2 linked regions of the Homo sapiens genome follow. The main gene of each other region encodes a partner of the protein of the gene in region 2 in a complex. Each region holds a gene or a part of one and is shown on either strand. Other genes may lie near its edges.

Evidence for each region. The genes of interacting proteins can lie anywhere in the genome.
Region 1: the proteins of FAM181A (region 2) and TEAD4 are in contact, whole or in part, in a crystal structure (PDB 6SEN), measured with the Homo sapiens proteins. Residues at the interface, in NP_612353.3 of Homo sapiens: Pro191, Met192, Arg195, Gln196, Leu197, Pro198, Ser200, Phe201, Trp202, Glu203, Glu204, Pro205; in NP_003204.2 of Homo sapiens: Glu263, Ala264, Val265, Gln269, Ile270, Asp272, Lys273, Leu295, Lys297, Trp299, Glu391, Val414, Glu416, Ser418, Ala419, Ser420, Gly423, Gln425, His426, His427, Tyr429.

Annotation. Positions count from the first base shown.
Region 1 is NC_000012.12:2,962,397-2,969,898, forward strand, and holds part of TEAD4 (transcriptional enhancer factor TEF-3), read left to right. Parts: intron 1-7,502. UniProt on the Homo sapiens protein: Transcription factor which plays a key role in the Hippo signaling pathway, a pathway involved in organ size control and tumor suppression by restricting proliferation and promoting apoptosis.
Region 2 is NC_000014.9:93,923,316-93,930,108, reverse strand, and holds FAM181A (protein FAM181A), read right to left. Parts: upstream 2,766-6,793; 5' UTR 2,655-2,765; exon of another isoform or gene 2,483-2,654; intron 1,911-2,482; coding exon of another isoform or gene 1,824-1,910; coding exon 945-1,823; 3' UTR 501-944; downstream 1-500.

The DNA of each region.
Region 1 (7,502 bases), on a different chromosome or scaffold from region 2:
GCGATCTCGGCTCACCACAACCTCTGCCTCCCGGGTTCAAGCGATTCTCCTGCCTCAGCCTCCCAAGTAGCTAGAATTATAGGCGTGCGCCACCGTGCCCCACTAATTTTGTATTTTTAGTGGAGACGGAGTTTCTCCATGTTGGTCAGGCTGGTCTCCAACTCCCAACCTCAGGTGATCTGCCCACCTTGGCCTCCTAAAGTGCTGAGATTATAGGCATGAGCCACCACTCCCAGCCGTTTTTTGTATTTTTAGTAGAGGCGGGATTTCGCCATGTTTGCCATGCTGGTCTTGAACTCCTGACCTCAGGTGATCCGCCTCGGCCTCCCAAAGTGCTGGGATTACAGGCGTGAGCCACTGCGCCTGGCCTAAGTCTCCCATTTTAAAGATGGGGAAACTGATGCTCCTAGAGGGACAGTAACTTGCTTAATGCCGCAACCCTGGTGAGTGGCAGAGCAGGGATTAGAACCTATGCTCTCCCCTTGGCGTTCTGTCTCCTGCCCTGTGGATTGCAGTGCTTGTACACCCCCTACTCCCCCTAGCCGCCTTCATCCAACAGGCGCGGAAGCTGGAGCAGACTGACTTGGGCCATGCCTTGTCGCTCAGATAAGGTTGGTAGGAGGCAGAAATACTCTGCTCCGACCTGGCAGAAAGCACATAGCTGTTCTGGGGAAGGAGCCATCTCACTGTAGAATCTGTGGAGTCGGGAAGGGGCCCTCGGGTCTTTAAAACACACCCTCCTCTCCCCTTGATGAGCCGGCAGGTGAAGGTTCTCCCTATCTTTTTAGATCTCCTGGGTTGCAAATGTCACAACCTCCTTTGATTTCCACTCTGGAGTCTTGCCCCGGTGACTGTCACAAAGCAATGCCTGTTGCCAAACCTGTGGCTCCTCCTTCTCCTTCCCAGTGGAAGTGGAGGACGTTGGTCCCCAGCTTTGGACCTTGCCTTTCCTGCAGTTGAGGTCAGTCCAGTGGCAGTTGGAAATTCAGGGCTTGTGAGGGTGGCTTTACCTTGCCTGTCTTCCTTTGCCCCCATGACCCTTTGTTGGCCGGGGTTGGACGACAGCTCCCTTTAAAGCTCTGAAATTGGAGCTGAACAGCTGCTGTCCAGTAAAGGGGGGTGAGGGGGCTGTCAGCAGCCAGGAGGGCCCAGGTGGAGGTGGGGGCAGGGCTTTGTCACTGGGGAGAACACGGTCTCCAGCTCCTATCTTCTAATTCCACTTTTGCCTGGACGCTTTCTGAGATGACGGTTCTTCCCTTGCTTTTGGTTTTTCCCGCTACTATCTGGGAGATTCTAATCACACCTGTGTGATCTGGCCCTGGGGCCCTTAGCTGGTGGGGACTGGATATTTGGGAAAATTTCCACTAGAACTCAGGTCTCCAAGATCTATGCCCACGTCCTCCTGCATTTAATACAGGGGGGCTCCTGGAAGGGCCAGAGGATGGGCCAGGCTCCCTGTAGCGGGGGCTGGCTCCTTGGCTTGGTGTGGGCAGGCGGGCCCCCATGGGTGGGGACTCTGCTTCCTTTGACCCAAACTTCATGGGAACAATAGACTTCAGAGGAGTCACCAGGGGCAGGAAATGGGAACTGTGCAGAGCCAGGGGTGACCCTCCTGGGGGATGGGATTGCATATCCGGTAGAGGGTTGGGGGCAGTGCAGAGGGCGCTGGGGAGGGGCTGATGACACATAGGGTGGGCCTCTGGGGTGGGGCCCTCCTCCAAAGGGGGCCGTTGACTCAGTGTGAAGCTAGAGCTCCGTGCCGGTTCTGTGCTGAGCTTTCGGCTCTTACTAGCACAGGGCTCGTGTTTGCCAGCCTCCGCTCGTGCCACGCTCGCCCCTGCCAGGACTTGGTCTTCCCCTTCCCCTCAAGCCCCTGAGATGTCTTTGCGAATCATCCTGGCTGGGATAAAAGGCTGGTGTTGTTGCTCCCTGGCTGGTCTCCACCTTGGCTGTGAGCCTTGGGCAGTTGTGGCTGGAACGGCGATCTTGGGTTGTGGGCAAAGCTCTGGACAGGGAGTCCCCAGGCTGGGGTCGCTGGACAACGTGAGGGATTTCTTTCTTTCTTTTTTTTTTTTTTTGAGACGGAGTTTTGCTTTTGTTGCCCAGGCTGGAGTGCAGTGCTGCAATCTTGGCACACCACAACGTCTGCCTCCTGGATTCAAGCGATTCTCCTGCCTCAGCCTCCTGAGTAGCTGGGATTACAGGTGCCTGCCACCACACCTGGCTAATTTTTTTTTTTTTTTTTTTGTATTTTTAACAGAGACAGGGTATTTCCATGTTGGCCAGGCTGGTCTCGAACTCCCAACCTCAGGTGATCCACCCGCCTCGGCCTCCCAGAGTGCTGGGATTACAGGCGTGAACCACCGTGCGCCTGGCCATGGGGGATTTCTTTAGCCGCAGGCAGAGCGAGACAGTGGGTGGAACGTTCTGGAGGCGGAGGACTCTTGTCTTGCCTCCATCTTTGTAAGGGTCGACCAGACTTTGTGAGGAGGCCACAGCTTACCCTGAGAGAATTGTGAGTCAGGCCACACAAGCTGCTTTGCCTGAGTTCAGGTTGCCGGATTCTCACAGATAGGCTTTGGGGTCCCAAGAGAAGGTGTAGGAGTGACCCCAGAACCACTGCCAGGACCTGGAAGGAGGGTAGGAGTAGGAGAGACAACACATGCTGTCTTGATTTGTTTCTTCAAGGAAGCAAGATGGGGACCCTGGAAATGGCAGACTCCTAGAATTGATTCCTTGCCCAATTCTTGGTTAGATTTTGTTTTTTAATGATTTTTTATTTTTTGAGACAGAGACTCACTTTGTCACCCGGGCTGGAGTTCAGTGGTGCAATCATGGCTCACTCCTTGAACTCCTGGGCTCAAGCAATCCTCATTGCCTTAACCTGAGTAGCTGGGACTACAGGTATACGCCACCACACCTGGCTAATTTGTAAAGTTTTTTTGTGGAGGTAGGGTCTCGCTTTGTTGTCCAGGCAGAACTCAAACTCCTGGGCTCAAGCAATCCTCCTACCTTGGCCTCCCAAAGTGCTAGAACTGCAGATGTGAGCCATCATACCCTGCCAATTTAAAATTTTCTAGTAGCCACCTTAAAAAAAAAAAGTGAAGTTAATGTTGGTGTTTTCTTAAACCCTAGTGTTATCAAAAATAATTTCAGTGTAATAATTTTTTTTTGAGACGGAGTCTCGCTCTTTCGCCCAGGCTGGAGGGCAGTGGGGTGATCTTGGCTCACTGCAAGCTCCGCCTCCCGGGTTCACTCCATTCTCCTGCCTCAGCCTCCCCAGTAGCTGGGACTACAGGCACCCGCCACCTAATTTTTTTGTATTTTTTAGTAGAGACGGGGTTTCACCATGTTAGCCAGGATGGTCTTGATCTCTCTACCTTGTGATCCACCCATCTCGGCCTCCCAAAGTGCTGGGATTACAGGCGTGAGCCACCGCGCCCGGCCATAAATTTTTTTAAATTATCATTATTATTATTATCGTAGACAGTGTCTTGCTCTGTCACCCAGGATGGAGTGCAGTGATGCGGTCATGGCTTATGCAGCCTTGACCTCCCAGGATCAAGCAATCCTCCCACCTCAGCCTCCTCAGTAGCTGGGACTGCAGGTGTACACGGTTGCACTCAGCCTAGGTTAGATTTTTGAACAAAAATATGTGGAGAGTGTGAAAATGAAGTGAGATACCTAGTAGCCAACCTGGGTTCACTCTACCAAGTCTTGGAGAAAACAACTCTAACTTGGGTGGAGGAATGTTCAGTAAGCCTTTTCAGTCTAATGATCTTCTTGGTACAAGAGAAAGCAGTGTGGTCTGGCTGATACAGCAGGGAGATGGATGTGTGACTGCTTGACCCACTACGCTGGATGCTGACTCCTAACTCCTGAGCTTGTGTTACTGTGAAGAGGTCCCCGTGATGTGCCGCAGGGCTGTCTTTGGCTTAGTCCTCTATGTTTTCCATAGATACGAGCCTCTCCCAGGAGCCTGTGTGGCCTGTGTCTTCTGTTTCTCATTTCTTTTTCTTTCTTTTTTTTTTTTTGAGATGGGTCTTGCTCTGTCACCAGGCTGGAGTGCAGTGGCGTGATCTTGGCTCACTGCAACCTCTGCCTCCTGGGTTCAAGCAATTCTCATGCCTCAGCCTCCCAAGTAGCTGGGATTACAAGCACACGCCACCATGCCCAGCTAATTTTTTTGTATTTTTAGTAGAAACAGGGTTTCACCATATTGGTCAGACTGGTTTCGAACTCCTGACCTTGTGATCTGCCCGCCTTGACCTCCCAGAGTGTTGGTATTACAGGTGTGAGCCACCATGCCCGGCGTATTTCTTTTTTTTGAGATGGAGTCTCGCCCTATTGCCTAGGCCGGAGTACAGTGGTGCGATCTCGGCTCACTGCAACCTCCGCCTCCTGGGTTCAAGCGATTCTCCTGCCTCAGCTTCCTGAGTAGCTGGGATTACAGGCACCTGCCACCACGCCTGGCTAATTTTTGTATTTTTAGTAGAAATGTGGTTTCACCATGCTGGCCAGGCTGGTCTTGAACTCCCGACCTCAGGCGATCCACCTGCCTTGGCCTCCCAAAGTGCTGGGATTACAGGAGTGAACCACCGCACCTGACCCTGTTTCTCGTTTTTATGGGCGTTGAGGGTAGCAAACATTGGCTGATAGAACCAGGGTTCAAAATCATCTCAGTTGACTGGAATGCTGCCATTAAGTAGAAAGATGAAGTTTAAAAATATTTCTCTCTTAAAATTAATATATGTACATTGTAGGAACCCTGGAAAATAAAGAAAGGCATAAAGGAAAAAAATGATACATAATACTATAATTCGGGTGGGCTGGTATTTCGGTGAATGTCCTTCCAAATTTGTGTTCATGCAAATCTATATATTTTAACATAATTGCAATTATACTCTATCCCGTTTTTTTCCCTACTGAATGCTATCTAATGGGTAATAGTGCATGTCATAAAAAATACTTAAAACCATAATTTTAAGGATCCAAGTAACATTGCATTCTATGACTATACTATATTTAACTATGCCCTACTGACTTTAAAACATTGTTTTTAGTTTTTAGCTTTTAAAAATTACTTGACATTGAGCAATGTTGAACATATACTTATCTCAAGAAGAAATGTAATAGGTCTAAGTGTAACATCCTGCATTTAAGTTCAAAGCATCAATTATGTAAGTCTAGAATAGAGTGGGACTTACTCTTCATTCATGTTGAGGGAAAAGGCTTGGGGTTTTGGGCTGAAAAACGAAGGAAGAGGGAAATGAACATTTTAATGCCTGTTAGGTGCTAGACCATTATTCTAGACATTTCTGCCTTCATCATCTCATTTCATCCTCTCAGCCCTGTGAGAAAGGTTTGGTTTGTTTTTGTTTTGTTTTTCAACCTCTACTTTACAGAGGGGACACTGTAGAAGTTATACTGCAGTTGGAGTTTGGACCCAGGTCAATCTGACTCTCAAACTGCCCCATTAAACCATAAGCCTGTGTGGGCCAGTGCTGTGGTAAGGTCTGTGTCAAGGGAAACCTTTACTCACTAAGCTCTGTGACCCTCTGGCCACATTGGAAGCCACATCTGGTTTTGGAAAGTTTATATATCCTGAGCTGTTAAGTATTGAGCTCGCCATTTTTGTGGGTCTTCCTCTACCCCCAACCAGTGATCTGATCTCAAACATGTGGGTCTTTTTTTTTTTTTTTTTTTTGAGACGGAGTTTCGCTCTTGTTGCTCAGGTTGGAGTGCAATGGCGTGATCTCGACTCACCGCAGCCTCCACCTTCCGGGTTCAAGCGATTCTCCTGCCACAGCCTCCTGAGTAGCTGGAATTACGGGCATTTGCCACCATGCCTGGCTAATTTTGTATTTTTAGTAAAGATAGGGTTTTTCCATGTTGGCCAGGCTGGTCTCGAACTCCCGACCTCAGGTGATCTGCCCACCTCGGCCTCCCAAAGTGCTGGGATTACAGGTGTGAGCCACCGCGCCCGGCCTTTTTTTTTTTTTTTTTTTTTTTTTTTGTGAGACAGGGTCTTAACTCTGTCACCCAGGCTAGAGTGCAGCGTTGCAATCACAGCTCACTGTGGCCTCAACCTCCCGCGCCCAAGTGATCCTCCCACCTCAGCTTTCTCAGCTACTCAGGTCTCAGTAGCTGGGACCACAGGTGATGCCATGCCCGCCTAACATTTTTTTTGTTTTAATTTTTATTTTTCATAGAGACAGGATCTTGCTGTGTTTCCCAGGCTGGTGTTTTTTTTGTTTTGTTTTGTTTTAATAGATAGGATCTTGCTCTGTTGCCCAGGCTGGAGTGCAGTGGTGTGATCATAGCTCACTGTAGCCTCAAACTCCTGCACTCAGATGGTCCTCCTGCCTCAGTCTCCCAAGTAGCTGGGATGACAGGTTTGTGCCACCATGCCCTGCCAATTTTTAAAACTTTTTGTAGAAACAAGGTCTTGCTATCTTTATTTTGCCCAGGCTGGTCTTAAACTCCTCGCCTCAAGCGATCCTCCAGCTTCAGCCTCCCAAAGTGCTGGGATTACAGGTATGAGCCACTGTGCTGGGCCTGTGAGTGTCTTAACAGAGGCTGGATGAGGACTTAGAACCTGCCCAGCATCTGGGTGCTGTCATTTCTCATTTCTAGAAGGTAGGCACCCTTTACAGCAGTAGCAGGTTAGGTCCATCTGACCTGAAGTCTATTACTTCATTATGTAAAACCACATAAAACTAGTGGGCCCTCTGTATCTGTAGGTTCCACATGGATTCGACCCACCCTGGATCGACAGTGTTCAGGGGAAAACATTCCACAGAGTTCCAGAAAGCAAAACTTGAATTTGCTGCTCACTGAATGCTGCATTGAATCCATGCAAATGAAGTGATGTGCATGCGTTGTGTTAGGTATGATAAGTTCTCTAGAAATGATTTAAAGCACATGGGAGGATGTGCGTAAGTTATGTGCAAACACTGTACCGTTTTATATGAGGGACTTGAGCATCCTCGGGTTTCAGTATCCTTAGAGGCCTTGGAACCGATCACCCACAGATACCAAAGGACTACTGTACATAGAGTTTCATTATGTAGAACTTACTAGGGATGCTTTGGAGGAGTCTCTGCCCTGCATGGGAAAGGACTAGGTCACCTCCAGGGCCACTGCTTCCTCGAAGATTTTGTGGTCCTGGGCCTCAGTTTCTCCACATATCAGCATGCGGGGATTCCACTAGATGAAACACTTCGGGATTCCTGCTACAGGGAGGTAGTACAGCGAAGCTGCACCTGGAGTTGGAGGCAAGGCTTGGGACGAGGGTGCAGTGTCTGAGCAGTCAGAGGAAGCAGAATGGGGAGATGAGGGAATTATTGCGTGGCTGCCATCGTCTTTGTCCAAACAAGCACGGTGTTAGGAACAGGCGGAATCTGGGTCTTGCCCTGAGGCTGGAGGGTGGGGAAGATGACCCCCCACAACCCCAGAGAGCAGTGGCTATCAGTGCAGACTCCAGAGTGGTGCTGTCCAAT
Region 2 (6,793 bases):
AGAGAAACAATTTGGTCAAGCCCCCTGTTTTGTCCACAGGGACCAAACTCCTGTTTGGCCTGATTTTCCCTCTGACCAGAGTTGGGCACAACCACCTTGGCACAGAGGCTGCCCTGCGGCTGTACACAGAGCAGAAGACACTGCAGAGAGACCCATTCTCATCTCACTGTCCTGCAGGTGGGGCAAGGAGACCCCCAGAGGAAGCGTCTGGCCGCACAGCACAGGGCGGCGCTGATACTGCAGCCCCACCTCCCCTGGTTCCAGCACCTATTCTCCAGAGCACGTTGGACCCCCTTGGGGGTCCACGCCAGCATGTCCTTCCCTAGTGGCTCCTCCGCTCCCCTCCTCACCCTCCTTCCTTTGAACCAAGATCTTGGCCCCCAGCGCCCATTCCCGGATATCTCAGAGGTTTCAGCCGCTCCTGGCCTCCCTGAAACCAGCCACCTCTGCCAGCAGCCCTCAGCCTGGGTGGGGCTCATTCAACTTCATGACACCCAAGATATGGAAACTCCAAAAGAAATGTCTTTATTCTTTTAACTTTCTCAATATTTACAAAGAACAAGAAGAACAAGAACAACAACTGAGATTGGCTCGCAGAGTGGGTGGCAGGTAAACAGATGCGTCTCTCTGGCTTCTGGGGTGACTGCAAGGCAAGGAAGGGCAACATCCCAGTACCTATGGTCTGCACAGGGACAGCGGGACAAGCTGCTGGGCCCTGGCCTGCCTGGGGAGGGGCCAACCAGGTCCAGCCTCCCAGCTTCCAAGGCTGCAAGGCTGAAGGGTCACTGCCTGAGGAGCCCTGCCCCAATCCTGCCCTCCACTCCCATGCGCACACAAACGGAAGAGGCCACACTGTGGCCCAGCCACCTCCTCACAGGAGAGCGCCTCGGGGACCTCGACACTCCTGCAGGCCAGAGGTGGGGGCTGAGGCCCTCTCCGCGTGGCTAGAGGTAGCCAAAGACATTGAAGATGGGTGGGGGCACGGCTGGCTTGGTGGGGATGGGTTTCAGCACCACGGGCCTGCACACCTTCTGCCCCAGGCCGTCCACATCCTTGCAGAGGTGCGCCAGCTCCCCGGGAAAGGCTGGGCTCTTCCTCCAAAGGCCCAGGCTGGGGACAGGACTCTGAGGCAGTGCCCCCAGGGGGCCCGGATAGATGGGCTGTCCATGGTACTGGAAGGGGCAGCAACTCCAGGCATTGACGCGGCCCACCAAGGAGACCCCAGGCATCTTGAGCGGCTCCTTTTCAGCCAGGGCCCTTGGAGACATGGACACCAGGGTAGTCTCAGGTCCCAGGGGCTCCAAGCCCTTGCAATTTTTCTTACCCTCATAGGGAGGTCCCTCCCTGGGGCCCAGTCCCCCCTCCAGCCCCACATGGTAGCTGTGGGTGGGCCTTGGCTCTTCCCAGAAGGAAGCGGGCAGCTGTCTTTTCCTCATGGGCACCTGGCCAGGCTGGGCAGCTTCTGGATGCTGCCTCTGTGGGAGCTGCTCCTTAGCAAGACATTCCTCCCTGTAGGGGTTCCTCAGCACCTTCTCCTTGCAGCCCCCACCCCCGCCGGGGCTGGAATCAGGGCCCAAATCCAGGAGCAGCCTCCTGGGCCGGTCCTCAGACCCCCTTTTCAGGTAGGGCTCAGCAGCTCTGCCAGGAAGGCCCCGCGGGAGCCGGGAATACTTCTGGGAGAAGCGCTTGAGCTGCTTCTGCAGGTACTTGCGATGGTCCACGGAGCGGCGGCAGGGTGCGGACTTATCCAGGGCTGCCTTGATGTCGCTGGACGCCAGGTTCACGAAGTTCAGCAGCATCTTCACATCACTGTCGGATGCCATCACCAGGGGGCCACTGCACGAGGCTTTCCATGAAGAGGGTAGGCTCTGCTGGTGGCCGGCAGCTCCAAGGAAGGGCACCGAGCTGACCTGGGGGACAAAACAGGCCATCGGAGTCTCTCCAAGCAACCACACCCAGCCCTCCCAAAAGACCACAGCACCTGTCTACAAACAGTCTCCCCACCCCAGCACCTCTCAGCCCTAAACAGAGTCCTGGGTAGAGGGATGTGGGTGCAAGTGGCTGAGCACTTCCTGCACACCTGGGATGCGGCAGGCACCAGCAGAGCCTCGCCCAGCCTGCTTGGGTCTGGTGCCCCTTCTTGCAGCCAAGGCTCAGAAAGGTCAAGCAAGTCGCCCAAGGTGACCCAGCTACAGGTGGCATTGCTGGGGCTGGCACACACTCCCAGCCTGCCCCATCTCCCACACACCACGCTGCCAACGTGTGCAACTTGCCAGCGAGGTGTTTATTCTCTGAGCTGAGGCAACTGTTCCTCTTTAAAGCAAGGCCAAGCCCCCTTCCTCCCTGGTGGTAGCCTCCCCCTCCCACCACTCCTGCCCCCAGCACGAGGAGCACCAGCCCCCCTCCTCAGTCCCCACGCTCCACCCCCAGCTCTCACGCAGGACCAGGCAGGACCCCTGTCTGGCACTTAATCGAGACCTGCCTTGCGGGCTGATCTCAGGCTGCGGGCAGCAGGGATTCCCCCGAAGAAGCATCTGCAGCAATTTCATGCCTCCTCGGCCGCCACCCACGGCACCTCGCCCCTCCCCCAGGCCCCAGCCTGCCCCCACACCCGCCACCCAGTCGGGCCAGAGCCACCGGGCCTCCACACTGACCGAAGGTGCGGCCCAGGCCCCACCAACGTGGCCCGGCAGGTTCCCCACTGCAGACCTGGGACAGGCCCCGGCGCAGCCGGCCGAGCTCCGTCCGGCTGGAAGCAGTTGTGCAACCCTTGAGTGGGCTGAATGGAGGACAACTCCCCGGAGCTGGGGGGCCCCTCAGGCCAATCAGGAGCGCCTCTCCAGATACAAAGCATCCCAATCAGGCGGCGGCGCCCCGTTCCCACATTCTTTGCCGTCACAAATTGTCACCATGGGGACCATCACAAAAAAGACAGCTCCCAAATGCAATCATTTCCCGGTAAATTTCTACCCTTCAGCCCCACTCTCCTCAGCCTCCACCCCCCTCCTCCCCTTGACCTCAGTTCCCTGGTTTCTCAAGGGGGTGGGGTGTGTGTGTGTGTGTGTGTGTGTGTGTGTTTAAAATGTCCAGGATTGAGAAGGGGCTGGGCCTAGTGGAGACAGGCTTGCAAACCTCCCCCAAAGACTCCAGGCCTACAGCTGCCATGCTCCAGTGCGGACAGACAATCGGACGGGGTAAGCCGGGGCGGGCTGCTTTTCCCGCTGTCCTTGAGTGTTGAGTGGCTCTCTCGCTCTCACTCTCTCTTCTCCTGTCTCTCTGTCTCTCTCTCTGTCTCCCCCTGCCACCCCCACCACCCTCCCTGCCAGGATCCCCCAGGGATCGGGGATGGAGGGCCTTCAAGGTCAGGAGGTGCGCTGATGCCTGTCGGAAAAGGTGGCCGAGGAAGGACTCTCTAACGAGGTGCTGGGATATCCATGGGAAGGGAGCTGGAGCTCTCAGGAATCTTGTCTTTATGTTTGCTTCCTCAATTGAGCTGCACAAAGCCTGAATTGCCCATTCAGCGCAGCCGGACAAAAGGTTGGCGTTGCACGGTCCCCTTGCATTTGTAGTCAAACAGTTAGGGACTTAAATCGAGTCGTCATGATGGAGAAAGAGGTGGACAAAGCCCATAGAATTGCCATCAGCAAACATTTTCCTGTGTCATATTAGCCAGTTTCCATGGCTCCCCCTGGCCTGCGGACAATGGGACAAGTTTGCACACTTGGCTACTGTCACCGTGCCAACGCCGGCGGGGCTGCAAGCAGGGCCACTCTGAGCAAGCAAGGGAGCCCAGAGCCGCTGTTGGCCCTGCCCACCAACTGGCCAGAGGGAAGGTGAGGCTGAAGGCGAGGGCGGCCGCCTGGGAAATGCTAATGGTCGTGCCTCCGTGCCAGCCCAGCTCACGGGCCCCTTTCACGCCTCATCATTTTTCTGCCCAGACTCAGCCTCCTCTTCCCTCCTCCTCTCCTTCCCCTTCCTTTTCTCTTCCCCTTCTACTGCCTTCTCCTCCTGTCTCCCTCACCAGCCAGATGGCTGGTGGCCTGTGCGCCAACCCACACCTCTGTACTACAACCTAAGATTTGGCATCTTAGGTTGCAGGACTCCTCCCTGGAGTCTCCCTACCCAGACTGGGGGCATTGGCAGGGCAGAGCCAGGGCCTCCATCCAGAAGTGATGGCCCTGCTCCTTCCCACTGGCCAATAGACAGCTGCTGTGGCCTGACTCCAAGCCATCTCCCCTACCCCTGGCCTGAGGGTCCTTACAGGCAAAATGAAGGGTTTGGAGGAGATGGCCCGGTGCTGACAAGCTGTGACTCAATTTAGGCCTTGAAAGCCAGCACTGTATTCTCCATGCCCCTACCCTGCTGCGGGGTCGGGGAAGTGTGGACCGAGATGGAAGTGCCGCTGGACTGACGCATCCTAGATTGTTGGCCACTACGTGCCCTGGAGGGTTGCTCCTGCCTGCGGCAACCTTTGCATGGGTGAGAGCCAAACCATCATCATTTTAAGTGCCAGAGATTTGAGGGCTATGTGTTTCTGCAGCACGTCCCAGCCCACCCTGACTGGTACAAGCAGGAAACATCCTTTCTGCTCCAAAACATCTGGCACGCGTGGCTGAAGAGAGCGCCCTGAGGGCCTGTGGCCACCAGGGCCAGCTCCCTGCTGCCTACTGTGTGAGGCTGGTGTGCACAGCCAACAGTTTGAACCTCTCCAGCAGCTGGCATCTGACTACGTAACCACCTGCTTTGCTGTGCTCGCCCTTTTCTCCCCAGGCCTTCTGTGATTTGTGGGGGCTGCATCATTCCTCTCTCCAGAAGATCTTCTCTCTTCTAAGGGCATCAAGACATTTTAGAGCCACTCAGCTCAGCTCCCAGCTTCCTTGAGATCCCACGGCACCTGCAGCCCTGCTGGCCCATTCTGCACTGCCCGCTCATGAAGCTGTCTCTCCTTTCTTAGCCAGTAGTAAGCCTCCCCACCAGGCCCGTGGACTCCGTGGGAGGTGAGTTGGTGTCTTACGAAAGTCTTTCCAAAGCTCTTAATGTGGGCTGTTCTTCCACCAAACACTTTTTGAGGAAACAGAGAAGGAAGAAAAGAGGGAAGAGAGAAAGGAAAGGGAGAGAAAAGTGGAAGAAAATGGATTCTTTGTGGACACCCAGCATGTGCCAAGAGCCGTATTCCACAACCACATGAAGACCTCACCTGACCCTCGGGGCAGCTCCGTGAGGGTAGTGTTGTGGTTGCCCTGACAAATGAAGTGAGGTTGAGTTACTTTCCCAAGGCTTCACAGCTGTTAACCAGCAGAGCTTGAACTTGAAGCCAGGCCCGTCTGTGTCCAAAGGCTGAGTTGGATCTGCCTGGCCACATTGCCTCCTGGAGCTCCCGTGAGCACCAGATGCTGCCTAAGCGCTGCCGGCCAGGAAGACCAGATTTTCTCCATGCGTCCTGGGTTCCACTCTTCTAGCACAATGTTGGACCTTCCCAACTCAGGAATATGGGAGCTGCAGCTTTGGGAAGTCAGGAGCAGGGAGAGGAGGCAACTGTGGCTTGAGGCCAGGCCTCTGGATGCCTCTGACCCACACAAGGGAAGGCTCCTCTGTGTTTTCTGATTGGCCATATAGGCAGGTGGAAAGACAGCAGTAATCACACCAGTCATAAGACTCTCCCAGTGTTCTCTCATTATTGTCCTGGGTCTGGGCAGAGAGGGGATTATTTTTCCCATTTACAGTTGGTGACACACCCACAGAAGCCTCAAACCTGATTCTTGGGCCCAACTCAGCCAACCCTGTCCTCTCAGCCATTCTTAAAGGCCCAGCTCAAACACCCCCTCCTCCAGGATGCCTTCCGCCAACTCCTAGCATTGTTAATAACGCCCTCTCCCATCCCTGTGTTCCTAGAGTCAAAGATGAAGTCTAACCTCCTTAGCTAAATGCAGAAGGCCCTTTGTAATCTGACTCCTACTAGAGCCTGGCACAGAGTAGCTTCTTACTAAATGTTTTAAGAATTAAATACTTTGCCCATTCCAATGAGCAGGATTTTTCCTGTGAACCGTAAACAGCTGCTTCCTGTCTTATTTTTTTAAATTTTGTCTGTTTATTGTTTGCCCCATCCAGGTGAGCTCCAGAAGGGAAGGGAGTTCTTTCACAGCTTTCTGTCTCTGTATCTCCTGTGACTTGAATGGACTCAGCACACAGCAGGCCTGAGTGAAGGATGCTTGTGGTTGCTATGGCTTACATGACAACGAATTGTCTGTAATCCTACAGGACTATGGCACATGAAAGCTGGAAGCGCTTCTTTCCGACTGCATCGCCCAGCACCAGAGCCCGAGTTCTGTAAAGCTCTGTTAAAGGCACATGAGCTGTGCTGGCTTCAACTGCCCTGAACTTGGATAAGCTGGGCCGCTGATGGACCCTTCCCAACCGGTTGTTGCTGCCTTGGTTTCCCGACAGTCCACTGTGCTGACCCTGCAGCAGGGACTCCCAGCTTTGCATCAACTCCATTCAACACCTACTGTGTGCAGGGACCAGAGGGTGTGGAGGTGGCATTCCCTGCTTTATCTTGATAAGTAAACGTTTGTCTCCTGCCCACTCATCAGTGAAGCAGAACAACTACCTAGCAGTCTCCTGGGAGCCACCCCTCCAGAACCTCTGGATGTCAACAGACACCATCTACTTATAGGATTCAGCCAGCACATGTGTAGACTGGAGCTGCAAGTGAGAAGAGGCATCTGGCAGGGCATGCACAGGCCAAGCCTTAGGGACCCAAGGAGCTCATCTGGGGCAGTGGGTTTTCAAATTG